7 separate regions of the Homo sapiens genome follow, and regions 1, 2, 4, 5, 6 and 7 are each reported to be linked to region 3. Evidence: microRNA targets listed by miRTarBase, many of them from high-throughput screens and not tested one by one. Region 3 holds a microRNA gene; each other region holds the end of a gene's coding sequence.
The links. The annotated mature microRNA hsa-miR-100-3p reads CAAGCUUGUAUCUAUAGGUAUG and lies in region 3 at 1,638-1,659, shown strand. An mRNA with a match to its seed (bases 2 to 7 or 8) in the 3' UTR can be bound and repressed. Matches are read on the target gene's strand: a 7mer-m8 pairs with bases 2 to 8, a 7mer-A1 pairs with bases 2 to 7 and ends in A, and an 8mer does both.

Region 1 (4,361 bases), not on the chromosome of region 3:
GAGTTGATTTTAAACTAAACAACCACCAAAAAGCTATATTAGTGTTTCGTGTGTACATGTGTAAATGTACCTTTCATTTCACAACTTATTTTTAAATAAGTAAAAAAAGAGAAAAAAATTTATTTTTATCTAAAGATTTATCTTTTCCTAAAGATTATTTCTTCTTTTAAACAGATTTTTTATGCTGGTCTACCCTCATCAAGTGCTTCACATAAAATCCCCTTATCCCAAATTGAGTAGAAAATATAGACAGGGCAGGGAATAAAAGACCACTGTATTGACATTTAAAGCTTAGTATCTTTTCTAATATTAAAGTCTGTTGGTGAGTTTTGTTTGGGAAAGGGATCATTTTCTAAACCATATGTGGGGAAAAAAAAACCACCCAAACAGCCTTTCCTTGCCCTTTGTCTTACCTCACTGAGCTTGAGTCCCTTGGGACTCCACACTTCCTTTGGTAGCAATTTTGAGAAATTAATGCTATAACTTCTAATCCAGTATACTGGGTACCAGCATTTCCCTCCCTGAATCCTTCCTTCTAAGTTTCACCACTCCCAAGGGAGGGACTCATTATTATGGGCAGCTACAGCATTACTGATAGCCCTAAAATCATTTCCACAGACTAAAGGTAGAGATGTCAAGTCAGGATAGAAGATTAAATTTAACTACAACAGAGAAAAAGTGAATGGAGAGGAGAGAAATTAGTAATTGACATTGTCATTCTATTTACACACCAACCTAATAAACTAGTTAAACATCAAGTTAATGTCTGCCCAGAGGATATCACAATTTACCAACATAAAAGATTAAAAACAAGCAGCAACTTTCATATAAAATTAATAAAGACAAATGAAAAAGAAATTGTCAGTAGCATCTATCTCCTCGATGTGTCTGAACTGCACGTTATCAACTAGTCCATTAGTACAGCAGCTTGCTAAAAATTGACTTTGGTTCAAGCTTAGTTAAAAAACAAAACAAAACATAAAAAAACACACCACACAAAAAGGGTGAATGGACATTTGTTAGTTTCCCTGCTTGCAGTTCACTGATTTTGGAAGGATTTTAGGGAAGGTGAAGGGTAAGAGGAGGAAATTTAGGGGTGGTAATTAAATATCTGTGAAATAAAACACGATAGAAATAAACTAAAAGAAATATTTTAAAGGGGACTAAAATGTTTCTGACCTTTTAACAGACTGTCTCCCACTTGAATCACACACAAAAGTACACATTGTGTCTGTATTTACTGCCTTACTGGACAATGGGAAAGAGACAAGTACACAGAATCCAAGCTCCCTTGTGGACACAAACAAAAGCAATCAGAATAAAAATCACCTGTAAGTTCTCTCTACATCCCCAGCTCGAAAGGGAGAAAAAGTGCAGTCTTGGGACCACCAGAGATTTAAGCAAGCACCCACAGCCACCAAATGGGAACCTTTAACTCCAATAAGAAGGGGAACTTAGATGAGCTGCACTGCAGTGATCCAGTCTTTTGGAAAATTTTTTGGTACAGATGGCATAACAACAGTACACTGACAAAAAAAGGAATTTAATCTCCAAGTTACCCTTATTCCTCTTCATCCACTTTCACAAACTCTTCCTTTTCAATGGGCTCATTTATATAGTCTACAAACACCCTGAAAATAATTACAGAGCTAATTACTTTCTACATTGAATAAAGAGATGTGTATTGCCATTTAGACCTACCTAGCAGGAGCATCATGAACAAACCAAGGAGACACTTAAGGTGTGTGCAAAGTTCCTGCTCAAAGTCCTTCTTCAAAGGTTCTACAGATCCCAGCCCGGCTAATAAGTGCCTCCTTTAGTCAGAGAACCAAGAAGAATCTCAGGGTTAGAGGAATTTATAAACCATCCAGTGGAAAGGAAGTCTGTGGCTCTCTAGAGGAAAAGGTGGTAACCTTATACCCTTCTCATCACACCTCTTTTGTATATATTATCAATGGAAAATAGTCTAGTAGAATTCCTTTAGAAAATAAAAGAAGGGAAAAGTTTCCCAATTTCAGTAAGTCAGTTTTTTTTCTTTGCCAAGTTAGTTAAAGTTTGGATGAAAAACTTCCACAAAATGGAACAAACAAACAAACACACCAACAGCAGGAGCATTTTTCAGGAGATAAGAAATCAGGAGAACCACCAAGTCAGGTGTCTGCAGTAGTCTTTGCTCTTGGGAACCAAATCCTGCCCTGCAACATGTACAGCTGTTCCCATTGAAAGTAGCAGAAAGCAGCACTGTTGCACCACAGGAACTGGGCCTCAGGGTCATTCAATGATTTGGGGGTGAGTGAGAGCTACAGTTCAGCAGGAATTCCTTCCTACACAAAAGTGCTCCAAAGGCACCACCTGATGTGGGGAGGGGAAGGGGCGTGTGTGGAATGGGAGTGTTTGCACACACTGCCTTCAGCTTCTGCACCAAGCCTCTTGCATAAGTGGCAAAAGAAAATAATTTTCTAGCACCTCTGTAAGAGTCATCAAGGATAAGGAAACCAGCAAGAACATTCCCCACAGTTAAGAACAGAAGTCTCCCCTTACCCCAAAACCCTCCCTCCCCACAGTGTGGGAGCTCACTGAAATAGGATCCAGGAGCAAGAGATAATAAACATGTCCAAACTATATATATAAAACAATAACAACAACAACAATAATAATACAGTAATACAGGCCTGCCTAAATTGTACCAGTTAAGAAAGGAACCCCCAACACAATTGATACGATTATAAACACCTTGTTATGACTTAATGGCCTGTACAACAGACCCATAAAAATGATTTTTTTTTTTTAAGAAAAAAAGAAATTTAGACAAACAAGAAATCCCCTTCCTATATTGGAATTGGTAACCCACCTTAACTTGTCATCATGACTGCTGGAAATGATAAGTAGTCCTTTCACTTATTTTTGTTTGTTTTTGATTTTTTTGTTTCTTTTTTTTTTTTTTTTTTTAATTTTTGGTTAGAAAGTTCTCCAATCCATGAAGCAATCCTGAAAAGACAGTGTTTTATTACAAAATTAGGCAAATGTTCCGTCTCCATCCTTTCTTTCTTTTTCTGGTATGTGTGTATGGGTGTGTGTGGTTTTTTTTTTTTTTTCTCCCTTCTCTCCTTTGCCCTCACAACACGGCGAGAGGAAGCCAATCACATTTTTCAGTTTATTAACCTGGCTGGCAGTCCAATCACACTGCAGAGTGAAAAAGGCTTCTGGCAGCCCAGCTCTGCCCAGCTCACTGTGCCTTGGAGGCGGTGGTGGTGGTGGACGCAGCCCCGCTGGCAGAGGCCACTGTGAAGAGAGAGTTCTGGATGGACTCAGCAGAGGTGGAGGTGGCGTGAAGGCTGGCTACAGGTGCAGAGTTCCCTGCAGATGCTGCGGCGGCAGAGACCAAGCTAACAGGGTTGCTGGTGAGCAGAGAGAGGTTCTGAGGGTTCAGGAACAGAGGGGCAGTCACGATGTTGGGGGCTCCTCCCGCATTGGCAAATACCAGGTTCCCAGTTGCATCAAGTGATGTTATTGGAAGAGAGCCACCAGAAGCAAGAGCTACAGACAAAAACCCCCCAAAACAGGCAGGAATGAAAACATTAACATCATCCTGGAGAAGCCAAATAACACATCAAAAGTCTATCATTTTCCTACAACCCACCAGGAAAAAGTATAGCCCTTCACTGAATTTTTTTCCTCAAACACAGTGCTATATTGATACCAATTGTAGTTTATTTTTAATTTTGAAGAGCCTAAAAGACTGAAATGTCTAATTTAATGGGCACAAGCAGGGGTAGAAGACAGCTAATAACTGTCTAATGAATTAGAGTCATGTTCGTGTCTTGAAATCACCAGTTTATTTCATTTACCTAGACATATTTGATAAATCCAATAATTTTGTCTTTAATGAAGACTGCTGATTTTAAACTACCTCTGTTCAAAGGACAAACTAGCTGAAGTGATTAAAGCATTAACAACAGGAGGTGAGTGGTGGGCATTACAGCCTGAGGCCTGCCTCCTGTTAGATCAGTGGCGGCATTAGATTCTCATAGAGCACGATCTGAGGTGGAAACAGTGTCATCCAGAAACCACGCCACCACAATGTGGCTATGGAAAAACTGTCTTCCAGAAAACCAGTCCCTGGTGCCAAAAAGGTTGGGGACCACTGCTTTATATTATGATATACAAGATGAAAATCATCTTGCAAAAAGGCTTTAGTTCTAAAATAAATTATGTATCACCAAATAAAGTTAAAAGGTATAATTAATTTCTCACTTCCTGAGGCTAAATACTTGATTTCTATGACTTGTGCAAAGGAGAATGATGAATCTATTGTAGCAGGAAATTAGACATAATGATGTAGGTGGGTGATCTAAGTCTAG
Region 2 (4,386 bases), not on the chromosome of region 3:
ACTCTGAGCTGTAGTTAGATCAAAATAAAACCATAGGAAGTAATCTCAAAATAACCAACAAAACAACTACGATAACCTCATAAAAGTATTAGGTGTTGTACTGAAGAAAAAAAGAATTAAGAAAAAAGTTATACTTGTAAAATAGAAGACAAAGTTCAACATGAAACCCAACAAAGGTATATAAAAAAATTATAGAAGAAAAGCAAGAACTATACAGCAGTTGTGAATTCCCTTGTCATATTCTTTAAACTGTATTCTTAAAATTTCTTTAATTAAAACATGTAATTTTAATTAAAAGCCACATGTGAATGTTGGTTTAACTTTCCAGGTATTCATGGATATCAACCATCATGCAGGCAGATATGGAATCCAGATCTGACACTAAAAAAAAAATAGGAATGAAAAATGAACTTGTAATTTTTACAGTAGTAAGAATGGACTTGATAAATTATGCACATTTTAATCTAAAATATAGACTTTCATATGTTTTATCTTAATAATATACCTTGAGTAAAATAAAATGTCTTTGTCAAAAGACATCCCATTCAGTAACAGATTTTTCAACAACAACAAAAAACCAAATGGCCCAAGATATTGAGATAATTCAGAAAATATGTGGGCAAAACCTCTTCTCTATTAAAATAAAATACCAATGAAAATACTTCTGTGCCATTTTAGCTCACGTTTGAGACCAAGCAAGACAATTATTTCAGGACTTTCCTATTACACATTAGTTTAAGAAATGCCCCATAAAAAAGGTTAAGTTCTGGCACCTAGATATTTCTGGAGTATGAAAATTATTCAATTCATGAAGAAACTGTACCTTTCTTTGAAGACTAATTGTTTTCTTGGCAGGGTACTGTGTTATCCAATGTGTTAACAGAATGCTGTCTTAAACAATGAGTTCAAAGTTATCCTATTACATAAATCTGATCATTTCAGATCGCAAGAGTGGGAAGGACAGCTCAGGCATTTTGCAAGGACATTTGGTTCCCATTCTCTTGAAGAATACCAGTGTAGCACATCTATCATAATATTGGTTATAAATTACTTCCTATCACATTGAATTGAAAGAAATAAAGCCTCCCAAGTGTGTAGAAACACCAAACCACTTTCCTTGGTTCTGTCAATCTTTAAAAAGTAGTGTGGCTCTATTCTGAGCAGTAACTTTTGGTTTCTTTCTGTAGAAAGGCTGTGAAAATAAATTATATATATTCCACAGATACTTAACTTTCATAAAATTTTGCCAGAACTAAGGAATATTTTTCCCCAATATCCTACAATTAGTGCCAATAGTGGAATTAAGATATAAATAATACAGAAATTTTGTGAACATCTATTAAAATATGTTGTACATGAACTCCTATCAAAAAGCATAGGATGATTAAACTGGAATTTTTAAGTATTCCTCCAAGCAATGTGACATTTATCTACATTAGGCTTTTTACCTTGAGTCTATGTTATTTTAGGTTATCTTACCACCTACTAGATTGATTTTGTTAATTCAATTTGGAGTCTCAAAATCATATATATTCTTTTCCTGCAAATGTCAAAGAGAAATCAAGTTCCTACTCTTTCTCCAGACAGTTAACATTACATCTAATCCACAAATTTCAGCACATACACCCAGTAAAAGGGTAAAATCATACTGATGTAGAGTGAATCTAATTTTTGAATTTCAGGCGTTAATGATTTAAACCTTTGTGCTTAAGTACGGAAAAATTAAATCCTTTAAAAGAAGTTCATAATAACTGAAAAAGGCCCCATCTGGCAATAATGAAGACAAATTAACAATAAAATTTTGAAAATCTGGCAATATGATCAAGCCAAAGCATACGAAATTACTTCTCTGTACTTAGTCACTGGTGGTCCAAGGAAGGATCAACTTCCTGTCTTGGATTCTGGCGTCTAAATTAAAGCAGGAAAATCGACTGCAATCTGGGTTCCAGGCTTCTGGCTCACAAGCAACAAAGCTCGAAACTCACTAAAAGCAGGAAGACTTTAACCCCAACATATTCTCTAAGAAGAATCTGCTTTTTGAATAGCTGCTTTCAGTTTAGTTCAAACACAAGACAATGGCATAAATTCACACCTTGGAGGTTAGTTGACTTTTAAAGCTTATTGTGCTATATTAACTCCTTTTGTGCCAATTTATCTTGAGCAAGAGGGTTTTTCTTTAAACTACACATATGAGCTAGAATTTACTACAGAAGAAAAAAGTTTTATAATCTGAATTATTAAACTGAATTTTTTTTCCTTTCAGTTACTTTGAATTGTGTCATCTAGTTTTGAAAATATGGTTATATTCCAATGAGAACACATGGACACAGGAAGGGGAACATCACACACTGGGGCCTGTTGCGGGGTGAGGGGAGCAGGGAGGGATAGCATTTGGAGATATACCTAATGTTAAATGATGAGTTACTGGGTTCAGCACACCAACATGGCACATGTATACATATGTAACTAACCTGCACGTTGTACACATGTACCCTAAAACTTAAAGTATAATTAAAAAAAAAAAGAAAATATGGTTATATTCATTTTTCTGTGTATATATGCCTGCCATGTAATTACATTTTTCAATGAATACTGTTTTAAAACAAATGTTTTAGTTTTATGTGCTTAAGTAAGATATTTTATACTTAGTTTTTAACCAAACCTTGATGATCAAAGAAAATATTTTGGTAATTGTTCAAAAATAGCTTAGAAGTACCATTTATATACAAACTGCTCTTCCAGCAGAAAATCAATAAAAACAGAAAACAATTCTAGCAGCATCTCATTACAACCTGGAACAGTGCATGAAAGTCCACTTCTGCTAGAGCCATTTTAGCTATAGACATATGCAATAAACCACTCGCTTGCTGTAAGAAAAGGGACGGCAAAAGTGAAACTACTTGGATAAGCATAAGGCATTAGACCACGTAAACCATTATTATAATTAAAGAAACATGAATTGAGCAGTGATTTATGGTAGTTGTACTATATTACACCAGATTATAACAACAAATCTTTTTTTGTTCGTAGATTTAGAAATAATGTACCTTAAATCTCTGTAGCTCCTTCTCGTTTACAATTGTGCTTTCATATGCACAATCTGATTTCAATCTGTATTACAACAATCCTGGGAGGTAGAAAAAACGGTCATTTTTGTTCATACTTTAATGGGCTAAATATAATTCCCATCCGTTTGAGACATGATAATGTGAACTAATTAAGCCTAAATTGTGCTAAAAATAATAAAAATTGTTATTGTATAAATGGGGCTTGGCATCAAATTGACACATTTTATTAAATATAATGTGCAAAATATAATGAAGTAACTTCTATTTAAAAAATGGTACAAGGCAGGTATTATTTAAAATGCTTTAGTAACTCATTTTCCATAAAAAGAAATCTGGCATTATAAAAATACATAAAATAATCATGATTTATATCATTAATTTACGTAAGATACTTTTTTGCATAAAACAAAGTTAAAAAATAGTTTAAAAAGGTATTCTTATATGAGCATCATTCCCAGTATAAAAATTTTCATAACTTTTTGTAATTTTGGTTCATCTGTATAAATAAAGCATTTTTATCCTTTTAAAATTCATAACTCCATTTAAAAAACATAAGATTCTCTCTCTTTTAAATAAAAGTTCACTTGAGGTAGTATGTTAAGCTTTTCCTTTGGTCTCATTCAGTCTATGTGTCCAAGTCATAAGACTGAAAATTTGGAGTCCTGTAGTTTTCTAAAGTCTGTTTAAAGGTACAAATGTGATTTTCTTCCTGAAAATCTGTCCTTTCTTTCCCATCTTCCTCTGACCCAGAGTCCAAGTCTGGGGAAGAATGAGCTTTCAAATAAAAGGCTCTTGGCTGACAATCTGATGGCTGTCCAAAGCTTGAATAGGCATCTAGGTGAGGTCTCCTGAGAGCTTTTCCAAAGGTACCTGAAAGAAAGAAACACCTTGAGCACATGGGTCCCTTTGCTAGCATGTGAATCAATAAAACCCATTGCAAATGAAGGAACATCTTACCCCATGAATATGAGTAAGTGTTTTCTACAAGTCCACATTATGGCACTCACATACATGTACATCTGTCTTACAGCCAGATCACTTCTAGAATGGAGCAAAAGACATTTGCCTTCCCTCATATTTACATCCACTGAACAAATGCATCTATTCTTTATCATTTCTCATGACCTGTAGTAATGTTAATGGTCATGCAATAAAGTTCCCCAATATAAGTTTCCCCACATCCTAGCTGAGAGCCCAATTTTGGTGACGGGTGTGTTGGATGGTAACATCCAAGTTAACTGAGGCTAAATAAAGAAATTTTCTTTCAAAATAAACCTGTGTCCTGCCCTTTCTTCATTAATTGTAGCCAAATATTACT
Region 3 (4,386 bases):
TGGTTATGTCTCAGTTTCTGTTCATCGTACTGTTGGTTTCCTGTTCTCTTTATTTAACTTTTTAGGTTGCATACACGAGGGCCTGCTCTTTTCTCTGAATAATTCCTCAATTCAGCTCTGTCTTTTTTTGTTCCCCTTGGTAGGGCTTCAGTTCATCTCCCAGATTCTTTTTTTTTTTTTTTTTTTTTTTTTTTGAGACAAAATCTCACTCTGTTGCCTAGGCTGGAGTGCAGTGGCACAATCTCGGCTCATTGCAACCTCTGCCTCCCAGGCTCAAGCAACTCTCATGCCTCAGCCTCCAGAGTAGCTGGGATTACAGGCGCACGCCACCATGCCCAGCTAATTTTTTTGTATTTTTAGTAGAGACAGGGTTTCACCCTGTTGGCCAGGCTGGTCTTGAACTCCTGACCTCAAGTGATCTGCCAGCCTTGGGCTCCCAAAGTGCTGGGATTACACACATGAGCCACCAGTGCCTGGCCCCAGATTCTTGAGAAAGGAGTGAATGTCCATTTTTTGAGGCAAATGAGATAATTATTTTGAGAGCCAGGATCCATAATTATAGCTAACAAAAGTTAAAAAGGTCTCTTTTTAGGTCCTGTAAAGGGATGGAGTCATGTGTGTTTCCCAGCATCTAGGACAGGGAGTTATTTAGCTGTATAATATATGTCCCTGAAGTGCTTATGATTATGCCTGTCTTCAATACAATTCACAAAAGGCGTCGTTAATGAAAGTCCATTGTCTTGGATGTTCCCTTCTTATATGTAGAACATTGGCTTTGCAGAAAAAAAATGTTATGTTGACAAATGCAATCATTTTATAAGAAGGTCTCTGAAACAGATTCATCCCTGTTTTTTCAAACAGTATTGCGGGGGGCGGGGGGTGCGGGGGGAAGGAGGAACAACTATGTAATTTCTTCTATGGTTCAAATTTTACAGAGTACACCCAAACTTGCTCATTGTTGGTGTTTGAATCAATAATAAGTGTGGGGATGGGATGGGGGTGGGAACAAAAATGCAAACTTTTCCCGAAGATGGATCTTAATATACCTGAAAATCTACTCTAGAGTGGTTTTCAAAAAAAAAAAAAATATACCTATAAATCCGTTGGTAGTACTTGCTAAGTTTATTCTAGTTGTTTTCCAGAATGCAAATAGGAAAATGAAAATTTCACCATCATTTTTAATGTAATGACAGGTATTTAAAGGAATGGACTTGCATTTGGGCTCTCATGTGTTCTTTCTCTCTGCCTACAATTTAAAGAATTTTCTTTATTCTGCTGGTTTGCCATTTTGGTATCACTTTGCCCAGATTATGTGTTCAGCAGTGAATAAATGAGTCTTCCATATATAAACAGTAAAATGATGAGGTTTACCTAAAGTCCACTGGATTTGTGGAAAAAGTGGAAACCAAGGGAAGCACGTTGGGGAGAACATAGAAGATATTGCTTAACTTTTGCTTTTGTGAGAGTGGGACGAAGTCCTTTCCATTTATGGCATAAAACAATTGAATGGTAGACTCTTTTATTGGATTAATGGTTGTAATATTTTATTTTCAGACATGTCACAGCCCCAAAAGAGAGAAGATATTGAGGCCTGTTGCCACAAACCCGTAGATCCGAACTTGTGGTATTAGTCCGCACAAGCTTGTATCTATAGGTATGTGTCTGTTAGGCAATCTCACGGACCTGGGGCTTTGCTTATATGCCATTCAATATCCCTTCGAGTTATTTCATTCTCCTTCTCTTCCCCTTAGTTTCCTTTAAGAGTGATAAAAATGGAAAAGGGGGCTGAGGTGGAGGAAGGAGACCTTTTGTCCTGAAATGAATGAGGTTCTTCAATGATGAATTAATAGGCTGGCCCTCAATTCCCATATCTCTTGTAACTGGTCTCTGCTGTCAAATTAGAAGGCTGAGCTTACAGGTGAGGCAGCAAGAATTTGAGTGATTGGAACAACTTACTGTTGAGTGATGAGTAAAGAGATAAACAAGGGTTTGTTTTGTTTTCTGTAAGCCTAATTGTTTTCAAAGTTATTATGATATTTTCTGGAAAGTGGCAGATGTGTTTACAGGACCAATTTCACCGTGATTTGGGTTTTTGGGTTTTCCTTTGTTGCAATTCTTCCTCCCCCAATTTCCCCAATAATTTTGCTTCTGAAGATAAGGACTGATAAATCAGAATGGATGTGTTTAACTGCCTAACTATTTATACTTCTATTTATATCCAGCAGTGTAAGAAGGACTTCTTATAAAAAAGAGATCGCCTGTTTAGGTCCAAATTCATATTTGGCCAGAGCTGTTTTATAAGTCTTTATCCTGTTTAAAACGCTGGAATGAAAATAATTTTATCCTCTTGCCTCTTAAATGTCACCATTGTGCCAGGATTGAAAAGCTAAACTGACCACAGATCAAAGCAAAACTGGCTATATTTGTTTCATTCCAACAATGTGAGCTGAGGAGTCTGTAAACAGAACTAGAACCCAGGGTGAAAAGTTGATCAGATTTGGATGACTCTAAAACTTTTGCATGCCCTTTTGGTAAAACATAGTGCCAGAAGTTCCCTTAAGATGTGTGTGTGTGTGTGTGTGTGTGTGTGTGTGTGTGTGTGTGTCCTCTTCTAACAAAAAAAGTCAACATGAAGTAGTTGGTGGGTTAACATTAGAGAAAAGTTTGAAATTCAAGTGGATAAATTCTGTCTCCTCTTAAGACCTACTCAGGAATAACTAAAACTCTTTCTTTTATCCAGTATATAGAAATGAGATTTTGCATTTCCGAATTAGGACAGCCTAGATACAGATGACATATGTATAAAGGGTAGAATTTGGAATTCTGTAATTGCTAGACCAAGACGACATTGTTTCCATGCATTTCCTTTGCATAGCACTGAGGAGGGTTGTCTATGGTGCTCAACCCCCTGCTTGCCAAGAAAGCATTGCTTTATTATAGAATGATGGCATATTACAACCCAAAGTGAAAGACTGTCCTCATTGGTGTGTGTTGTATAAATTGTTTGCCTAAGGCCTTTATCTACACAAAAAGCAAACAATTTGCTTGGTTAGTTTTATATGCCTCTTTGAAGTGGTTAACTTGGAATGAATAAACTGCTAGCAAGTTAAATCAGTACCTCCACTAGATAAATACTTGTTTGATAACGGCAAAATCACATCTCTACTCATCATCCTTTAACCTGCTGTTAAGTGTACTACCATGGGATTAGCGGTGGAGTTCATGGATCCATGGGGACCATGAGCTCCCAGTATTCCCCGTACAGGAACAATACTGGGACTGCAAAATGGCCAGTGGGTGACTGCCAGATTACTTCTTTTAAGGAGGTTTTTAAAAACACATTATCCCAAGAAAAAAAGATTATATAGAGCAGTTGGCCCTTTCAAAGTTTCTAAACGGCTTCAAACTTTGATTCATCTGGTTAGAAAATATTCTAATGGGAAGCCCAAAGCCCCTGGACATTGGCCACAAGAAACAGGATATTAAATATTTTACATGATGAAATTCAGTATTTTTCCCTCCTTCCATGTTCATGAATGAATGGTTCTGTAGATATTAATTATTCCTTTGAGGCTCCCTCAGAGTGTACCAAATATCCTACAGGAATCATGCAGAAAGTAAAATAATTTCAGAATTTCCCCAGAAAGGCTTGGAAGAAATATTTCAACAGCTATTATTGCATGGAGGAAATGGAATGGGTATAAAGCAAACTAGTTTTATTAAATTTCTCAAATCATCACTATCAAAATATATTTAAGATGTAATACCAGGACATGGTTTAGATTTGTTTTTTTAAAACAGGAAAAGAAACTTATTCCGAGAAATGCATTTGATAAAGCAACTCACCCTGAGCAACTCACCCTGCAACATCAGAGTTTGAGGAGGGAGAAGCTGAGATTTAGCTTGAGAAGTTTTCTTATTTATATTTCAAAATTAATAGATGTATTTCTTTACATGGGAAAAATGGTATGTGTATGATAGAATTAATTTTGAATTTTAAACTAATATGATTTCTTAGTTTTCCAATGTGCTTACGAATCATTCCTCAATATTTGTTAGGTCCTGTGGATCCTTATCTGTTGACTATGGTATTTAATCCCATCAAATGCCACCTAGGCTCTCTAATTAAGATTTTTAAAGCCTCTACTGCCTGTAATAGCACTGAATTTGTACAGAGAAGTCGATGTGAATGACTCTTCAAAGATATTCAAAGATTTATTAGAACCTAACATGGTAGTTAATAAAGTATGAATTGGAAAAAAAGTCACTTTTTACATTGGGCATAGCCGTAAGGCTAGAAAAATTATGATTTCTTCATTCTCTCATTCATTCAACAAACCTTTATGAATGTTTACTTTGTGTTCAGCACTTTGCTAAAGGACAAAG
Region 4 (4,386 bases), not on the chromosome of region 3:
TCGAGACCAGCCTGGCCAACATGGTGAAACTCCGTCTCTACTCAAAATACAAAAATTAGCCAGTCGTGGTGGCGGGTGTCTGTAGTCCCAGCTACTCAGGAGGCTGAGGCAGGTGAATCACTTGATCCCGGGAGGTGGAGGTTGCAGTGAACCAAGATTGTGCCACTGCACTCCAGCCTGGGTGAGAGTGATTGACTCTGCCTCAAAAAACAAAACAAAAAAAAAAAAAAGAAAAAGAAAATGAAAAAAATTCAATTAATAGAGGAGCACAAGATAATATTAAAGAAAACCCATCCACAAGCCTGAACTCTTAAAAAAAATCATTTTATTGATCCTTTACCATACAAAATTTATTCAAATTACACCCATTTGAAGTGGTAAGATCACAGCTAGAGAACAGGTCACCCTGTAACAAATCTATTTACAAAATCCATCATAAAAGCTTTTTTTTGTTTTTTTTTACATTATATTACATATTTTCTTTTTTAAACTAGCATACAACACAAAGCTAAACTGATTAGTAGTTTGCCTACTCCCAATTTTGGGAGAAATACTTCCTTTTTACAAAATCACGTACCCCGTAGGAAAAGAAATTCCCACACCCTGACAATTGCCACCCGACTTACTCTGCAAGCCATCTTCCTTCATATCCCTCCTTCTCATACACACGAGTTGTCATGCACACACTGAATTCTTATTTTCTTTTTCCTGAAAGCTTAAGCTTTAAATACTGCAATTTTATTTACAGATCTACACGTACAACAAAAATGAAAACAAGAGCCACAACAAAGAACAGAAAAACAAAAACAAAATAACACTCTTAAAAAATTACAAAGCAGCTAGAAAGTATTCTGGCAGTGTTTACAAATTAATTGCTATTTTTGTACAAAATTGCTAAATAATGAAAATGTGAGTAGACTACATATCAACTTAAATAAAACGATTGCTATGCACAACTCTGTACATATAAACACACTCCTAACACTGTTTGACAGCTCATGTGTTGCCCTTTATACATTTTATTTTCTAAGGCTCACGCAGTCATAATTTGCACACTTGTAACTTTTAGCCATTTCGTGTGTGAGCTTTAATAGCAGCAACTCAATGGTACCAGGAAACCTGCATACTTAGTACTTAAAGTAACGCAAATACTGTAGTACTAACCCACTTTGTGTGCCGGATACTAAGTCAAAAAGAAAATTACTTAATGCAAACAAAATACAGTATGGACATCTAATTAATGTACACCAGTTAAACCCAGTAACTGGAAAAAAATCTTATGCATGAAGGAACTTTTAAGACTTATTAGTATTCCTTTCATTTTAAAAACAATAAATACGGCATTACATTATGAAAAAATTCAACAAAACACACAACAATCTAGCCAGGTGAGCTCAGTCTTTAGACTTTGGAAAAAATCAGCTTTGTGCAGCTGGCAAAGAGAATTACACAAAGCTGGAAGCAGAGGCAGCTAACCAGATGAGATAAATATGGGAAATGGGGAAAAGCTTGGCATAAATGGTTTCCCATACAGGAAAAAACCCCACAGTGCATTTCCAGTAGGCACTTAACACAAAGCTCCCTCTCCCTCCCCCACCCCAATGCTTCATCTAGGACCACACCGACATTTTGTACCAAGTCCAGTGTGTGTGAGGGGAGGAGGCCAGGGATGGAGGCTGAAGAAGAAAAAAAGGAAGATAGTCTGCACCTTTGTTTTTCTTCCCAAACATACACCCACGCATACCCACACAAAGAGTTTAAAGTGCTGGTGTCATCTGTCTTGACCCCACCACCACTTTGCATATTGTGGAAATCTACCTGGAGTAAACTGGCTGGGGCTCTTGTGGTTTTTTGTGTGTTTTTTTTTTTTCCTAAGGGATATTTTCAATTCAATTAAACATATGAGTTGAGTGCCTACTATGTGCCTACCATTGGGTCAGGCACATAGCATTTCAATTTAACTGTTCGTTTCGAGGTTTGTTCTTTATCTGACTCCCTCATTCCCGCAGTCCTTAGCATCCAAGGAATGGACCGGAGATACTACGCCATATTCCCAGTGGGAGATGGCCGCTGCCACCTGCCCGAGGGAAAGCCATTCTTGGACATAACTGGTAGGATTTGCAGCTGACACAAAGCCTCCAACTTGGGACACCATTCCTGAAGAGTAAAGCGGGAGACACCCTGGCATTGTTTTGCTTCATTTTTTACGTCCCCGACTTCCCTTGGTCCAACTTATTCCTTCATAGAGGAAGGGGAACGGGGTCTGGCCAGAACTATTCCAGCCCCCGACACAGGGCTGCTCCCTGTTCCTGCCAGCTTAAGGAAATGCCACTCACACAATGGGGATGTCTTTCTCCCTAGAGGTCTCTCCATCTGACCCCATCCTGAGAAGTGGTCTCCCTGAGTGCGGTGTAAGAGAGCCCTTTCCCCTGTCACAGGGGCCCGGGAAGCCCAAGGATGGAGGGACCCATGCCTGCTGCTCCTTGGGGCTGTTACATCATCTGACCTGGTTCTCCTTTCCAATGGGCCACCCATGTCAGCAAGCCCCAGGACTGACTCGCTCCAAGCTCCCCCTCCTGGGAATGGAAGCACGATGGGACAAAGCTCCTTGCAGAGGCTGATAAACCTTAGATCACACAGGTTTAGATGCTCTGATCAGTAGAGGTTCTCTCCCTCTGCTTAAGTAATATGAATTTGCAAAAACCGCTTCAAAGTAAACAATTAAATTGAAATGGTGATGGGTGCCACAGGAATGCTTAAATGGCAGCTAAAAAAATTAAAAGTCTAGAACAATCCACAAAGAACTAAGTAGGCATTTGCTACAAATCAACTGGAAACTCACAAACACATTGGGGACGGGGGAATGGGAGTGGTTCATGGAGACAGGAAAATCCACAACAGCTTAGAGTGGCAGAACTCTACTAGTCTTCTGTATCTGCAACAAGTATATTTGAAAACAGGTTCTTCATCCAGAAGGCTGTGGAGGTTTTCTTGACCTCCTACTGGGACACACAGTTCATAGCTTAAACTGAATTATGACAGTAATTTAAATATTCCTAAGAAGAGCTGAAGAAATCCATTTCATACTTTTGCATGACTTCAAGTTTGCATTTGCTGCAGTTCCATTCCATATTAGCAGACCTCAAAGACATGCATTCTGCGGAGAAGGCACGGCTTGAAATGCTATTAAGGAAGATTGCTGTTTCCCAGCAGGCCAGGTGGCCAGACCCCATTCTACAGCCCATCCGTCAGGCACAGCAAGCCAATCCGGGGAGGAAGGAGGAAGGACAATTCGGGGTGAGAGACACCTGATTGCACATTTTCTCACTTGCTGACTTAGCCAGGAGATCTTGGAGCCTGGAGCAAAGCAGGGCTTTCCCAAGGGAGCCTGCAACTGTGCGTTTAGACAATTTGTTTATTAATTTTTTAAAAAATTCATTAAAATGTCAGCTTTCTTCTGAAGTTTGTAGTTTACTTCATGATACTCTCTTGGAGGAAGAAGGTAGGAAGGGACAACACTGCATGACAGATGTTCTGGTTCCATGATAAAAAAATATCGGTTTTTAAGGAGAGTTCACACGAAGCATAATCAACTACACATGAAGTCTTCCACCAGTGGGAGCTTTTCCAAATCGTAAGCATCGAAGAGATCGCTGATGCCTTCCTCCTCCCCGAGGCTCAGGAGATAGTCCTCTTGCAGCAGGGGAGGCAGTAAGTTCACAAACGGTCCTTCTAGGTTGGAAGGAATTTGGTCCTCAGTCTGCTGTAAGAGGTTGGCTGGGGAGGCCAGAGGAGAAAGGTTTCCCATAGAAACTGAGCAATCGCTATGTCCTGAGTTGGTTGAAGCCAAGTCTGAAAAGAAAACATTGATGGAAACAAAAAATAAGTTAGAAAAATCAAATGAATTTTTCTGGAAGAATGTATATGTTGCTGTTAGAAAAAAGCATGTACCTTCCGCAAATAATGACAATGAGACGACTTTATGATGCAGATCACCTTTTATGCTAACAGGTACAAAAAAGTTCCTTGCCACCCCCGTCCCCCTTTTAATTTTTGAGACAGGGTCTTATTCTCTTGGCTGGAGTGCAGTGGTGTGATCATGACTCACTGCAGTCTTGAACTTCTGGGTTCAAGGGACCCTCCCACCTCAGCCTCCCAAGTAGCTGGGACTCCAGGTGTGAGCCACCATGCCTGGTTAATCTTTTTTTGTAGAGACAGGGTTTTGCCATGTTGCCCAGTCTGGTCTCGAACTCCTGGGCTCAAGTGATCTGTCTTCCTTGGCCTCCCAAAGTGCTGAAATTACAGGTGTGAGCCACCATGCCTGGCCATCTTTCTTTGGCCCTAGTCTACTCACTCATTTTTCAAATAACTACTGTCAATAAACAA
Region 5 (4,386 bases), not on the chromosome of region 3:
AGAAAGATAAGTACTCCCTGCCCAGCGGCCTCCTGCCTCCCGGTGCCGCGGCCGCCGCCGCCGCTGCCGCGGCCGCAGCCGCTGCCGCCAGCAGTCCGGTGGGCGTGGGCCAGCGCCTGGACACGTACACGCACGTGAACGGCTGGGCCAACGGCGCGTACTCGCTGGTGCAGGAGCAGCTGGGCTACGCGCAGCCCCCGAGCATGAGCAGCCCGCCGCCGCCGCCCGCGCTGCCGCCGATGCACCGCTACGACATGGCCGGCCTGCAGTACAGCCCAATGATGCCGCCCGGCGCTCAGAGCTACATGAACGTCGCTGCCGCGGCCGCCGCCGCCTCGGGCTACGGGGGCATGGCGCCCTCAGCCACAGCAGCCGCGGCCGCCGCCTACGGGCAGCAGCCCGCCACCGCCGCGGCCGCAGCTGCGGCCGCAGCCGCCATGAGCCTGGGCCCCATGGGCTCGGTAGTGAAGTCTGAGCCCAGCTCGCCGCCGCCCGCCATCGCATCGCACTCTCAGCGCGCGTGCCTCGGCGACCTGCGCGACATGATCAGCATGTACCTGCCACCCGGCGGGGACGCGGCCGACGCCGCCTCTCCGCTGCCCGGCGGTCGCCTGCACGGCGTGCACCAGCACTACCAGGGCGCCGGGACTGCAGTCAACGGAACGGTGCCGCTGACCCACATCTGAGCACCGGCCTGCGCTCGTCCACCCTTGTTCCCCACCCCCACCCCCACTCCCGCCCCGCACCCCCAAGTTGGGACGCCTTGTTTAGCTTTGCTTGCCTGGGACTGTTGCCTTGTACCGATGATGGGGAGGGCTGAAAGTTTTGCTGTAGCTGTCGGGTTTTGTACAAAAGCAAAAATAAGTCAGGAGCAGCGAAAATGGGACTTCTAGAGAGCTCTCTTGCCCCACGCCGCTGCTCCTTTCACCTTTGTAGGCTGGGAATCGCTGTGTTATTTGCAAAGAAAAAACAGCCCCCACTCCTCCTCCTGAGTTCCAGGGTTATTCTGTTACATTTGAAAATGTTGTCTTGTTAGTTTGCAGTTAGCCAAGGAGTGAATGGGAGAAACATAGTATCGGGTGAGGCCAGCTGGAGAACTGCAACGCCTACGCCCCCAGTCGTGTCGCGTCTGTTTTCCTCGTGGTTTTTTGGGGCGCTGACCGCTCCAAGCAGCGCGGCAGCTAAAGCCAATGTTAATTTATAGCCAGGTGTGCGTGTGTCTCCCGCCTCGCCGCCCCTGGCCGCGGGACAGCTTCTGTCCAATCATGTTGAGTTGGTGATTTCTGCCGTGATCTGTTTGATATTTCTTCGCGCTAATGTGTTCAGATTTCGTTTGGGTAGTGGGGAGGGGCTACTTTGTTTCAGGGTTTTCAAGCTTTTACTCTTAATTCCTAAATGAGATCAATAAATTTTATAACCAACATGATGGAGTCCTGATAATTTTGCGGCCCTGAAACTTTTTTGCAGGTTGGGGAGGAACCAACACTCGGTTTTACAACTGAGATCCCATCCTAGGGGCGGGGTGGGACCTGGGGGGAGGCAAGCATAATCTGAAATGGTTTCCTTTTAACTACTGGTGATCCACCATACACCAGCTTCCAATATTCTCAACTGAAACTCGGAACAGAGTTCCGAGTCTTCCAGGAGCGTCTCCCGAGAGCGGGCACACAGTAGTAGCTAATGCGCAGAGCCCGCGGCCGCGCACTTGTTGATCGCAGTGAGCGTCTGCTGAAAGTGTCTGCTGCCGCAGCCACGCGAGGCGGGGCTGGAAAGGCGCGGCCGCTGAAACCGACCAAAAACGGGGCACTTTTACCTTTGTGCACTGGGGCGGGAAGACATTTGAGCCTAGCTGAAATATTTACAAAACGAAAACCCTTCGGAAATCTCGATGATCCTATTAAAAATAAATGGTTACAGGGATCCCCAGCAGGAAACAAATACGTTTCAACCCTGGTAGCTGAACCGCCGGAGTCAACATTCAGCGCTGGAAGATTTGGTATTAAAAAGTACTCCTTAGATTTTCAAAGATCTCCGAAACTCCTCCCAGGCGTTTTGTTTTTAACATGTCAACTCAGTCCACCTATTTGTTTTCCAGAGAAGGCTCCTTTTCATCCAGAGTCTCGAGCCCGCTTTCTACTCCATCCCCCTCCCCACTCCATCCCCCTCCCCACTTTCCTCCAGTCCCTGACCCTTGGCCATTCCACTGTGCCCCCCGAAGGGCCTTTAGTTTCGCGCCCAGCCACACGGCCCCAGTGTATCTGTTTGGGGCCTAGGAAGAAAACAAATAGAACCAGTGTTTTTTTACCCCCTCCTCAGCTGTTTGAGGTGATTTCCTTAATCCCTTTAATCCTGTTACCTCGCTATCCCAGAATAACTAAACTCAGCCTTTCCAATAAGCTTGGCCTGGTGCACTGTTTTTATCCTCATCCACTACTGACCACAGGTTTCTTTGCTTGAGGTCCGCTGGGACCCTAGGCGACAGAGTCTCCCGTAAATTGGTCCGAATTCCACATTTCCAGCCGGCTTCCTTTGTGTGGGCCAGTCATTCACCTGCGGGCCGGGGAGGGCCTGGTGGGGGGGTGGGGAGGGGGCTTTCTGAGGCTTCGGGGGTCGTGCCCGCTTTTTACACATCACTGCGGATCCTGGAGACTAAACCCACTCCGCCTCTTCAAGAAAGGTCGGGTCTCCCTGGGAAGGCAGCACCAGCCCCCTAAGACATTTCCACTGCCAACCCTCACCCCCCGCATTCCATCCCCCACTGTGCAGCATGGGGTGGGAGGGGGCCGGCGTTGATTTACAGACCCATACGCTTTGCCCTCCACCCAGTCCTCCTCCTGGTCCTGCCGCGCGTCCAGGCTCGGGTTCGGGTTCAGTCTTAGCCTTGGTACCACTCCCCCTTCTCCCAATCCCAGGGCCACAGACCTCGCCCCCCTCCCGGCTGGTTGGTGCTTCAATCCTTGCTGCTGTGATTGGAGCAAACCTGCAAGCTGCCTGGTCAGTGAGCCTCATCTCCCCTGGCCCCTCAACCCGGGTGCTCCAAAAACCCAGGGGCGAGAGGAAACTCTTTTGTCCCATCTATCCCCCCACCATATTTTTACCGTGTTTGGCCTTCAATAAAATACCTGTCCGTAGGTTACTCTGGGTTTCCAATTGCTAGCAATTGTGGACTCAAATTTGGTCTGAAATGACTCCAGGAAAGGGAGGGTAAAAACAAGCAATTCGCCCCCACTGTGGGAGGCGGTGCCAACAGGGGAATAAACTCTGACACTGCTTCTTTCGAAGAGTCCATTGTGCTGCTGCCTTCTTAGAAGTGCCAGGGTCACCCTTTCAGTGTGTCTCACATACCGCTCACTCTCTCTCTAAACATCCATGGCTTTGTGCTTCACTTTGTCTGATTTCCAAATTGCCCTTAAGGGAAAAGATTTCATCAATCAGCACATTAGGAGGATTTAAATACAGATGAAAAATGATTTTTTTTTCTTTCCTTCAGCAATAGGGAAGAGAACGGAACTGAACTAGAATGAAACTTTCATCTTCTAGGCCAGAGTTTTCAAACTGGGGCCCCTCCCCCACTCCTCCCCACTCACGTCTATCAGGGCAACCGAACCTTAATCCATTTTATAGATTGGGGTTCTGATAAGGTTTAATTTGTAATAAGGGTTCTGCTGCTTAAACAGCAACAATAATGAAATCTGGTCAAACTCCAATTCCTCCTCCCTCCTCTTCCTTGTTTTACATAGGAGGAAACTGGCCCCAAAAGGGGAAATGACGGTGCTCAAGGTTGCGTAGCTGGTTCTACCGCGGCGCAGTGGAACCACACTCCCAGGCCTGGGAGGGTACTCTCTCCTCTGCCGGCCACAAAACCAAGAGATAAACCAGTGAAATCACAGCCCCAGCTGCCCCTCAAAGCCATAATCCAGCGGGGCCTCTAGAGAAAGGCAATTCCTGACACAGAGACTCCTACTAGCCACCTCTTCGTGAATGATGTGATGTGGGAAGCATCAAGTCCTTACCGAGGGAAAATGGCTAGTCCATTTTTTAGCTTCTATGATAGGTGCAGAGCTACTTTTTGGTGGGAATTACCCTAGGTAGAGTTTTGCTTTCCTATCTTCTGACTATACAACTTCCTTCATTAATCCCCCTTCTAGAAATCTAGGAGTGGGTGAGGGTTGGGGCTGAAGAAGCGCATCCAAAATGCAGCCAAAGATTTATAACAAAGATACTCATCACAGCCCTTCTTATGCAAAAAAGTTCCAAACAGACCAAATGTCCAACAAATGGAGAAAGGTTAGGTAAAATGTTTTAAAAAGTCTGCTTTGCAGACATGAAAATCGTTTACAGAGAAATTTTTAATGACACAAGGAAAAGCTTAAAGCACAAAGCATA
Region 6 (4,386 bases), not on the chromosome of region 3:
AATTCATACTGAAGAAAGATACCATGAATGCAATGAGTGTGGCAAAGCCTTCAAGCATAGCTCAGGCCTTATTAGACACCAGAAAATTCATACTGGAGAAAAACCATATCTGTGTAATGAATGTGGGAAGGGCTTCGGGCAGAGTTCTGAGCTTATCCGGCATCAGAGAATTCATACAGGGGACAAACCCTATGAATGTAATGAATGTGGGAAAACTTTTGGCCAGAACTCAGAGATTATTAGACATATTAGAATTCATACTGGTGAGAAGCCCTATGTATGTAAGGAATGTGGGAAGGCCTTCAGGGGGAACTCAGAACTTCTTAGACATGAGAGAATTCACACTGGAGAGAAACCCTATGAATGCTTTGAGTGTGGAAAGGCTTTCAGGCGGACCTCTCACCTTATTGTCCACCAGAGAATTCATACTGGAGAGAAACCCCATCAATGTAATGAGTGTGCAAGAACCTTTTGGGATAATTCTGAGCTGCTTCTCCACCAGAAAATTCATATTGGAGAGAAACCTTATGAATGTAGCGAGTGTGAGAAAACATTTAGCCAGCATTCCCAACTTATCATACATCAGAGAATTCACACTGGAGAGAAGCCTTATGAGTGCCAAGAATGTCAGAAGACTTTTAGTCGGAGCTCTCACCTCCTCCGACATCAAAGTGTTCACTGTATGGAGTAATCTGCAAAATAGGAAAGCTTTTAGTGGAAAAGCTAAAGTCCAACTTATTCATTTGTTCATAATATGCAAATATGCACCCCAAGTATTCAAATCCAATGAATGGACAGAACCTCCTCTGTCCTCCCACTGATTTTAAATAGTTGGTTGAAGAAGATGAGGCACTTTTTTTTTTTTTTTTTTAAGCATTGGGGTCTTGCTCTGTTGCCCAGGATGGGATGCAGTGGCACAGTCGTAACTCACTGCTTCCTTGAACTCCTGGGCTCAAACAGTCCTCCTGCCTCAGCCTTCCAAATAGCTAGGACTGCAGGCACTAATGAGGCACTTTTATGAATTATTCATTGAGAGGTTTCAGTGTGCTAAGTTAAATCATAAAAGCTCTTTCAGGCCTTAATTTCCCCTCTGTCCTTCCTTCCCCTTCTCCTCCCCCAGTGGATCACATAACAAACATTAAGGGTCTGTACCAGCCATCTTTCCTAAATTACTCTTCAGCAAAATTGTGGGAACAGGATTCCACCACCTCCTAAGAATGAGAGTTGACTCATTGACTGTTACCCCCTGAAATATTAGAAAGTCATAATTTAGAAGACACACCTCATTCTCCTGTCCACTGTTTAGCATTGGAATAATTTAGTAAGCTGTTATTAGCTTCAAAGTCGTCCAGCCCTGCTATGAAGTTACTTTAGAAGATGGCAGCATTAATGAAGAAGCAGGCTCATTTCACATCTGTCAGGCTTCCTTATTCATCTGAAGAGGCTGCCATGATGGAGGAACTGACAGGCAATTTACAACGGGATTATAAGTGAAGGCCTTAGAATCCAGAGGGGCCGATTAGGCAACACCAGGGGATAAACAATTGAGGTCACACTGCTCGGCATGGGCAGAAGCAGCTCTTCAGGAGCTGTCCACACTTCAGGGGTGCTCAGACTGACTGCTCCTAAGAATTCTGCTGCATATATTTTTAGCCCCATCTCCTGCCACTGCTGACAGATATTGTGACAGTAAGTAGCAGACAGGACTGTGGCTTCACCTCCTCCGGGCACCTGGCTACAGTGATGAGTCAGTTCACCTGATGACAAACCAGGGTCTGGCCTTGCCAAAGCACTTAAGTTCTCATGACCTGGACCGCACTGGAGGCCCTGGCTAAGTCAGGATGTCGTAGCCTCTTCTTGGTTTTGCCCCTTGGCCTTGAAATTCTTTTTTCTTGAATAACTTTAAAAAAATAGAGATAAAGTCTTGCTATGTTGCCCAGGCTGGTCTTGAATGCCTGGGCTCCAGCAATCTTTTTGCCTCAACTTCCCAAAGTATTGAGATTACAGGTGTGAGCTACCATGCCCGGCCTTGAAATTCTTTCTTCGCTATGTCTGCATGTTTTTTGTGTTCTGTATTTATTTCTTCTCCAAGGAAACAGCCTACATTTTCCATGTGTCCATGTTTCTGAGGCCGTGGGTGACAGTGGGAATTGCACTAATGGGGGCCCAACAGGCCTGGGGGCTGGTCTTAGCGCTAGACCTTGAACAAGGCACTTCACCTGCTGGTCTCCAATTTTCTCCTCTGTAAAATGAAAGAGTTGAACTAAGTGATCTCAAAAGTTTCAACCAGCCCGATAATTCCTTAATTCTTTAAAAATTTAACTTTATATATCTTTATTATTCTTTAACCTCATCTTTGTTACACTAATATTAGTCACTAATATTTATTGAGTGTTTACTACCTGACAGGCAGAGTGCCAGTTTACATTTTAATTTTCACATCATTTCTATGATGTGGGTACTCATTTTTTTAAAGCTTTATGAAGGTATAATTTACGTACTATAAAATTCACCTGTTTTAAGTGTTCAGTTGAATGATTTTTAATTTACATAGTGGTGCAACCATCAATGATGTGGGTATTCTTACCCCAATTTAAAAGATAAGAAGGGGCAGTGTTAAGTAATTGACCCATGATTCCACAGCTAGTAAGAGCGACAGCCAAGACTCCAAACCTGGTTGATGCTCTTAACCACTGTGCTATGCCGCAGGTAGGCAGATTCATTACTGCCTTATCTGAAACCCTTTGCACAGTTTCTATTACTGATTTCTATGTAGATTTGAATATAACAAATTTAAATCATGTCCTTGGTAACAGAACTGATCACAGCCAAAAAAAATTCACCAAATGGGTTTATTCTGTACTCCAATATAGGTGTCTTCCCAGGTTTATATCCTTGGCTTGAGAAAAGGGTTGTACAAATAGATGATTGCAGAGTTTCCACATCCTTCCAGATACCTCTGCCTCTAGCAGTCACACTCTTAGTAAGGGAAGTTGTTTGATTTACTTCTTCCCTTAGGTTGATTACAAGTGAAGTGCGCCGTCTTATTCCTTTTTCATTGCTGGAGCACAAATTGAATTGTGCCCAGACCGTATCTTTCTCACATGAAACCTGGATCTCACCTATCCCTTCCATGCCTGATTCCCGTGTTTGCATATTTTATTTCCACATTTACCTCTTGTCAGCCCTGACAGAGAATTTGGCACCCCTTCAAGCTTCTCCTAAACAATCTATGCACACAAACACCCCTGAGCAATATGGACTTCACTGAAGATAGTGTGTAAGCAAAGGAGAAGAGTTCACATTGTGCATCCTATTAGACATTTTGTTCTCAGAAGTACCTTACTGGCCAAACCAATGAAGGTTTTCCTCTTGTCCTCCCCTCTCAAGGCTCAGTCACCTCAACTTCTTTTTGCCTACTAGATATCCAATCCATCACCTCGCCTCCCCTGGCCCTAGCTCAATTACCCTCTTAAACCCATTCCTGCTCAGCAAAACTTCCTCTAGTTCACCATTCATTCATTTGAACATTAGGAGGCAATTTAGTGACCTGTTGTACCTGACCATGTTCTTAAGGGGGAGGTCTCACGTCTCATTCCCAGAAAAGTCTACCATATATAGATACATATTCCCCGCCCCGCCCCAGATTTCTGGTGAATGAAATCACTTGTATCTTATTAGGTACATATACGCAAATCCTTAACCTCAATTCTCTGTCCTCTTCATGTCTTACCCAGATATCTCAGGAAGATTTCTCTTTTCCTTCTGTTTGCCTCCCTCTTCGACTTACTTGGGAGTCAGCATCTGACCACAGTCGTGACTGGTAATGATGATTTGTGCAAATACTATCAAGGAAAGGACATGAATTGTCTTAATTTTAGACCCATTAAAAAACCGCACAGGCCTCAATCTTAAAAGTCCTATCTAAATACCCAGAAATACCCTTCAGAATTTTTGAAGCTATGCCCATGTACAAAATTTTCTTCCTTCCCTAATTTTAATGGTATACTAACACCTTAGGTAAATAAAATATTTCTTTACTATTTTATTGATACAATGCCTTTGTCATGTTTATTCCAAATTGCATTATGTTTCACTATGGATTTAATAAGGACTTTGTTTACCAGTTTCATCCCCACCTTGTAAGTTTCACCTTACCTAAATACCCCCACATGCTTGTTAGCTTCTGGTTTTGCATACAGTGTACATTCTGTGTCCTTGATCTGCTTTGCTTGGTGAGATCCTTCATCTTAAATAACAGGACAAGTGTTATCTATTGTGCGTGTGTTGGTATACACGTTTTTCTTCATGATTAGCAACTTAAAATATTCCGGACCATTTGTATGGCCTTTAACAAAAAATCACCTTATTACTGAAATTTCAGGG
Region 7 (4,386 bases), not on the chromosome of region 3:
AGAGTTGCTCATAGTCCAGTGGTAGAGACAACATGTAAGCCACAGCAGCAGGAAGAAGAGCTGTGGAAGGAGGCTGTGCAACTGCCCTGGGCTGAGAGGCCAGCTTCCCCAACGAGGTGCCCTAGAGCCAATCACAAAACCTGAGTAAGAAGTTACTGCTTTGATGGAGTGGTGGGATGGGGAGAAGAGGTTCCAGGCATAGAACAGTATGTATCTGGCTAGAGAATTTAAAGGTTTTTTTTTCTGGACATAGGTGTTTTTTGTTTTGTTTTGTTTTTTTTTAACTGAGCTAGGTTGTTTTTGTTTTGTTTTGTTTTTATTTTTTTAACTATAGCCTAACATAGGTTTTAAGTTGTACTTCCCCCAACTCCCCACCCCCAGTCACTCTTTTTTAGTGAAAAAGTTTGGACATGAAAGATCCTAATATATTCTTTCCTTTGGGTATGAATGATTGTCTTTTACTCAAATGATTGTTCCTTTGTGAACCTTAGGGACGCAAGTCTGGACAAACCAGGCTCTGTAGGAACATTCCTGAGAAAACATTAGTGACATTCATTTCTTCTTTCCACAGTATGATCTTAGCTTTGATAAATGACTGAAGCTGGAGAAGCCGTGGTTGAAGTCAGCCTACACTACAGTGCACAGTTGAGGAGCCAGAGACTTCTTAAATCATCCTTAGAACCGTGACCATAGCAGTATATATTTTCCTCTTGGAACAAAAAACTATTTTTGCTGTATTTTTACCATATAAAGTATTTAAAAAACATGAATTGAGTTTCTGTAGATTTCTAGTTCTCAACTTTAGCCTGAACGCCAACACTTGAAGGTGTTTTTCATCCTCTGTATGTTGAAGGTGGTTATTTGTATGTAGGAACAGGACTGCCATCCCAGCTTTGCATGCCAAAGAAATAAAGAACACACTTTAAAGGGCAAACTGAAGAGATGAGCGAGCAAAGGTGCCCTTCAGGTCTACTGAAAAGTTAGAGTACAAAACAACACTGTTGATCTGGACAAAAGAAGAAAAATTACCCTTTTTGCTTGTGTTGTGACAACTTCATTTAATATGGTTTAAAGATTTATGAGACTGTCAGCTAAAAGTCTTTTCACAAGAATGTCAACAGAGAATGGCATCTCAAAATATATATATTTCTTTGCACAATTTGTGAAACCTTATAAGCCATTTTCCCCAGGTACAATGTAGTTCCTGCTGATAGAAAGGAAATATTTTGTCAAGAGCTTTCATTTAAAAGCTACTACCTCCACAATCACCCCCAAACCCAGAAAATCCCCACTGGCTCTTGCCAGTCTGGTTTTCGTATTGCAGTTATTCCAATTGTATTTGATCTCCCTGATAACGTATTTTCATGGGTTTGGGTAGAAGATGCTAATCAGATTAGAAGCAGGAATAGTTATTTGCTGTCTGTGAAATTGAGCCTTTTGGTGCGCCACGTGGTGCCAGATCAACACTTCTATCCCTCTGCACTGACCACGTTGTGAACTGGGAGACCAAATGCAAGCCATTTCATGGACATAGCAATATACAACCAAACTCTGTTCCTTGGAGTTATATTGTAAACTCTTGCAGGTGGGAGAGCAGTTCACCTCCTTAGCTCTGTTTGCCAGCTCTTACAGGGTAAAATAAACCTGGCAATTTATCCTCAGTCCTAGTTTGTGGTTTAATGTTGCTATCTTAAGCACTGGCATTTGGGCAAAACATGACTGTGTTCTGTGGGAGAATCCAAAGGCATTATTCACTCTAGTTGAGATAGAATTGGGTGGCTAAACAGGGTGTGTGGTACCCAAAAGATTAAATGTTACATGTCCTTTTAGTCCTTGACCAGGTCTAGCCTTGGCAGAAGCAAGGGAGCCACTAAGCCAAACTCCCTGTGCAGACAGACCATGTTTCAAGGCTGGAAGTAGTGCCCTGGCAACACACAAAAGGAACGGTGAAATGGTAGGCAAAGTGAACTTGGCTCTGCTGGCCTCTTTGGGGTCACAGAAATTGCTCCTTGTGGTAATCTTATATTTCTGTCAGGCACAGGGCCAAGAAGCTGTGTAACAGACATTACTTTGCTTGCATCTCTTTTTCATACCTTTTCCCTCTGAGGCAGCTTTTGCTTAGAAAACAGTCCCTTCACTCTGCCTTTCCTCCTAACTTCCTGTGCCTCTTCATGTTCTGCTCAAGCTTTTTAAAGCAACGAAGCTGTTGGAGAACTTAAATCCTTGCAACTGAGAGATAAGCTACTTAAAGGCGGTAGAGATCTTTTTTTTTTTTTTTTTGAGATGGGGTCTTGCTGTGTTGCCCAGGCTGGAGTGCAGTGGTGTGATCTCAGCTCACTGCAACCTCTGCTTTCTGGGTTCAAGCGATTCTCCTGCCTCAGCCTCCCAAGTAGCTGGGATTACGGCTAGCTACTCCTGGCTAATTTTTGTATTTTTAGTAGAGATGGGGTTTCACCATGTTGGCCAGGCTGGTCTCAAACTCCTGACCTCAAACGATCTGCCTGCCTTGGTCTCCCAAAGTGCTGGGATTATAGGTGTGAGCCACTGCGCCTGGCCATGTAGATGACTTTTGACCAAAATGTTTCACCTTCTCATTCAGATATTCTTAGTAACCAAAACAGTGACTCATGCAGTTGAGAGAGCCTTTGGGCTGTCAGTTTACAGTACATCAGGCTTGCTGAGGCTAAGCAAATCAGAAAGGTGCCATGTTTATAACAGAGGTCAAAGCTCCTTACTTCTGAAACATTAGCTGTGGTTAAAAACAAAAACTCTTCCTTCTTGTATTGCTTGTCTATCAAAGCCAGGAAAGTGGGGGATCACTGTAGTTAAATTTTTTTTTTTTTTAATTAGAGACAGAGTCTTGCCCTGTCGCCCAAGCTGGAGTGCACTGGCGCAATCGTGGTACACTGCAGCCTTGAACTCCTGGACTCAAGCAGTCCTCCTGCCTCAGCTTCCCAAGTAGTTGGGAGTAGGTGCACACCACCATGCCCAGCGAATTTTTTGTAGAGACAGAGGTCTTGCTATGTTGCCTAGGCTGGTATCAAAATTACTGGCCTCAAGCGATTCTCCTGCCTCGGCCTCCCAGATGTTGGGATTACTGGTGTGAGCCACCACGCCCAGCTCAAAAACAATTTTTTTAGGGGCACTTCTACAAATCATGAAAGGGGGATAAAAGCACTGACTTTAAAAAGCCATGTTTAAGATGCTATAAATGTTCTCCCCTTTTCATTGATTGGAGAGTTGTAGAGGACCTTAGAGATCATTTTGTCTAACTCCCTCATCCCAAAGATAAACTGAGGCCTAGAGATCGTTCAGGGTGTTGTAACTGGGAACATCTGAATGCTGAGGCCTAGAGATCGTTCAGGGTGTTGTAACTGGGAACATCTGAATGCTGAGGCCTAGAGATCGTTCAGGGTGTTGTAACTGGGAACATCTGAATGCTGAGGCCTAGAGATCGTTCAGGGTGTTGTAACTGGGAACATCTGAATGCTGAGGCCTAGAGATCGTTCAGGGTGTTGTAACTGGGAACATCTGAATGCTGAGGCCTAGAGATCGTTCAGGGTGTTGTAACTGGGAACATCTGAATGCTGAGGCCTAGAGATCGTTCAGGGTGTTGTAACTGGGAACATCTGAATGCTGAGGCCTAGAGATCGTTCAGGGTGTTGTAACTGGGAACATCTGAATGCTGAGGCTTAGTCCAGTGTTCTCTCTCCCTTACCACTCCTCTTCCCCTTCCCTCTATAATGGCAGTACCCAGGGCCCGGTCCATAGACTACTATCGAGTGCTCCTATGTGCATCTTAGTACGTATCATTTTCCCTTGCCTTTTTCCTTCTATCCTTTCAGTGGTAGCAACTGCCCTTGCTAATCACCGTAACCTCGGCTGAGAAAGAAGAGGAAGCGAAATCCAAGATGCAGCTCAGTTCATCAAAGCCTAGCAGGTCCCCTCAGCTGCCTTTTCATGCCTGCCACAGACTACAGTAGGACAAAACCTGACCTGGTCTTTGAAGTTAAGAGCTAAGAAAGCTTCCTATAGTAGTATCTCCCATGGCACTTACCACATTCTATCTGGTATTACAGTTATTTGTATGCAATTAATCACTCTTAGATTGTATGTTCCTGGAGGGCAGAATATGCCCATTCATATTTGTATCTTCTTCCTTCTGCTCTTGGCACCTAACACAGTGCCTTGCACACAAACAATAAATGATTGTTGAGTGAATAAGTAAACCTGATTGTGGTGTTCTATTGCTTTTTCAGCAAGAAGTCAAACTGATGGCCTTTAAGTCAGAGAAGCAGCAATGGAGCAACATAATCAAAGTTGACCATCTTTGTTTTCAAGACAGTCACATTATGAAATATTCTGACATGCTAGGCTAGGAAATGG

Region 1: the mRNA of POU2F1 is a reported target of hsa-miR-100-3p. The part of its 3' UTR that is shown has no 7-base or 8-base seed match.
Region 2: the mRNA of LRIG3 is a reported target of hsa-miR-100-3p. Seed matches in the 3' UTR shown: 7mer-A1 at 3,667-3,673.
Region 4: miRTarBase lists E2F3 as a target of hsa-miR-100-3p. Seed matches in the 3' UTR shown: 7mer-m8 at 1,506-1,512 and 7mer-A1 at 718-724.
Region 5: the mRNA of SOX3 is a reported target of hsa-miR-100-3p. Seed matches in the 3' UTR shown: 7mer-m8 at 1,372-1,378.
Region 6: the mRNA of ZFP3 is a reported target of hsa-miR-100-3p. Seed matches in the 3' UTR shown: 7mer-m8 at 3,212-3,218.
Region 7: the mRNA of CNIH4 is a reported target of hsa-miR-100-3p. Seed matches in the 3' UTR shown: 7mer-m8 at 2,182-2,188.

Annotation. Positions count from the first base shown.
Region 1 is chr1:167,414,676-167,419,036 of GRCh38, reverse strand. It overlaps POU2F1 (POU class 2 homeobox 1), which reads right to left. Exons shown (of 16, transcript NM_002697.4): 16 at 1-3,537. The coding sequence ends at 3,227. Among named protein-coding and RNA genes, the nearest start is that of CD247, 100 kb to the left of the region's middle.
Region 2 is chr12:58,868,879-58,873,264 of GRCh38, forward strand. LRIG3 (leucine rich repeats and immunoglobulin like domains 3) reads right to left here. Exons shown (of 19, transcript NM_153377.5): 19 at 3,277-3,938. The coding sequence ends at 3,694. Among named protein-coding and RNA genes, the nearest start is that of LRIG3, 49 kb to the right of the region's middle.
Region 3 is chr11:122,149,513-122,153,898 of GRCh38, reverse strand. MIR100 (microRNA 100) reads left to right here and starts at 1,591; the gene lies at 1,591-1,670. The region is part of intron 4 of MIR100HG (mir-100-let-7a-2-mir-125b-1 cluster host gene); the gene reads left to right. It overlaps MIR10526 (microRNA 10526), which reads left to right and starts at 1,743; the gene lies at 1,743-1,796.
Region 4 is chr6:20,489,634-20,494,019 of GRCh38, reverse strand. It overlaps E2F3 (E2F transcription factor 3), which reads right to left. Exons shown (of 7, transcript NM_001949.5): 7 at 306-3,852. The coding sequence ends at 3,590. Among named protein-coding and RNA genes, the nearest start is that of CDKAL1, 43 kb to the left of the region's middle.
Region 5 is chrX:140,500,020-140,504,405 of GRCh38, reverse strand. SOX3 (SRY-box transcription factor 3) reads left to right here. Exons shown (of 1, transcript NM_005634.3): 1 at 1-1,421. The coding sequence ends at 686. Among named protein-coding and RNA genes, the nearest start is that of SOX3, 2.9 kb to the left of the region's middle.
Region 6 is chr17:5,092,323-5,096,708 of GRCh38, forward strand. ZFP3 (ZFP3 zinc finger protein) reads left to right here. Exons shown (of 2, transcript NM_153018.3): 2 at 1-4,052. The coding sequence ends at 691. Among named protein-coding and RNA genes, the nearest start is that of ZFP3, 16 kb to the left of the region's middle.
Region 7 is chr1:224,375,224-224,379,609 of GRCh38, forward strand. It overlaps CNIH4 (cornichon family member 4), which reads left to right. Exons shown (of 5, transcript NM_014184.4): 5 at 572-4,229. The coding sequence ends at 599. Among named protein-coding and RNA genes, the nearest start is that of CNIH4, 21 kb to the left of the region's middle. RefSeq lists enhancers at 2,324-2,373, 2,744-2,833.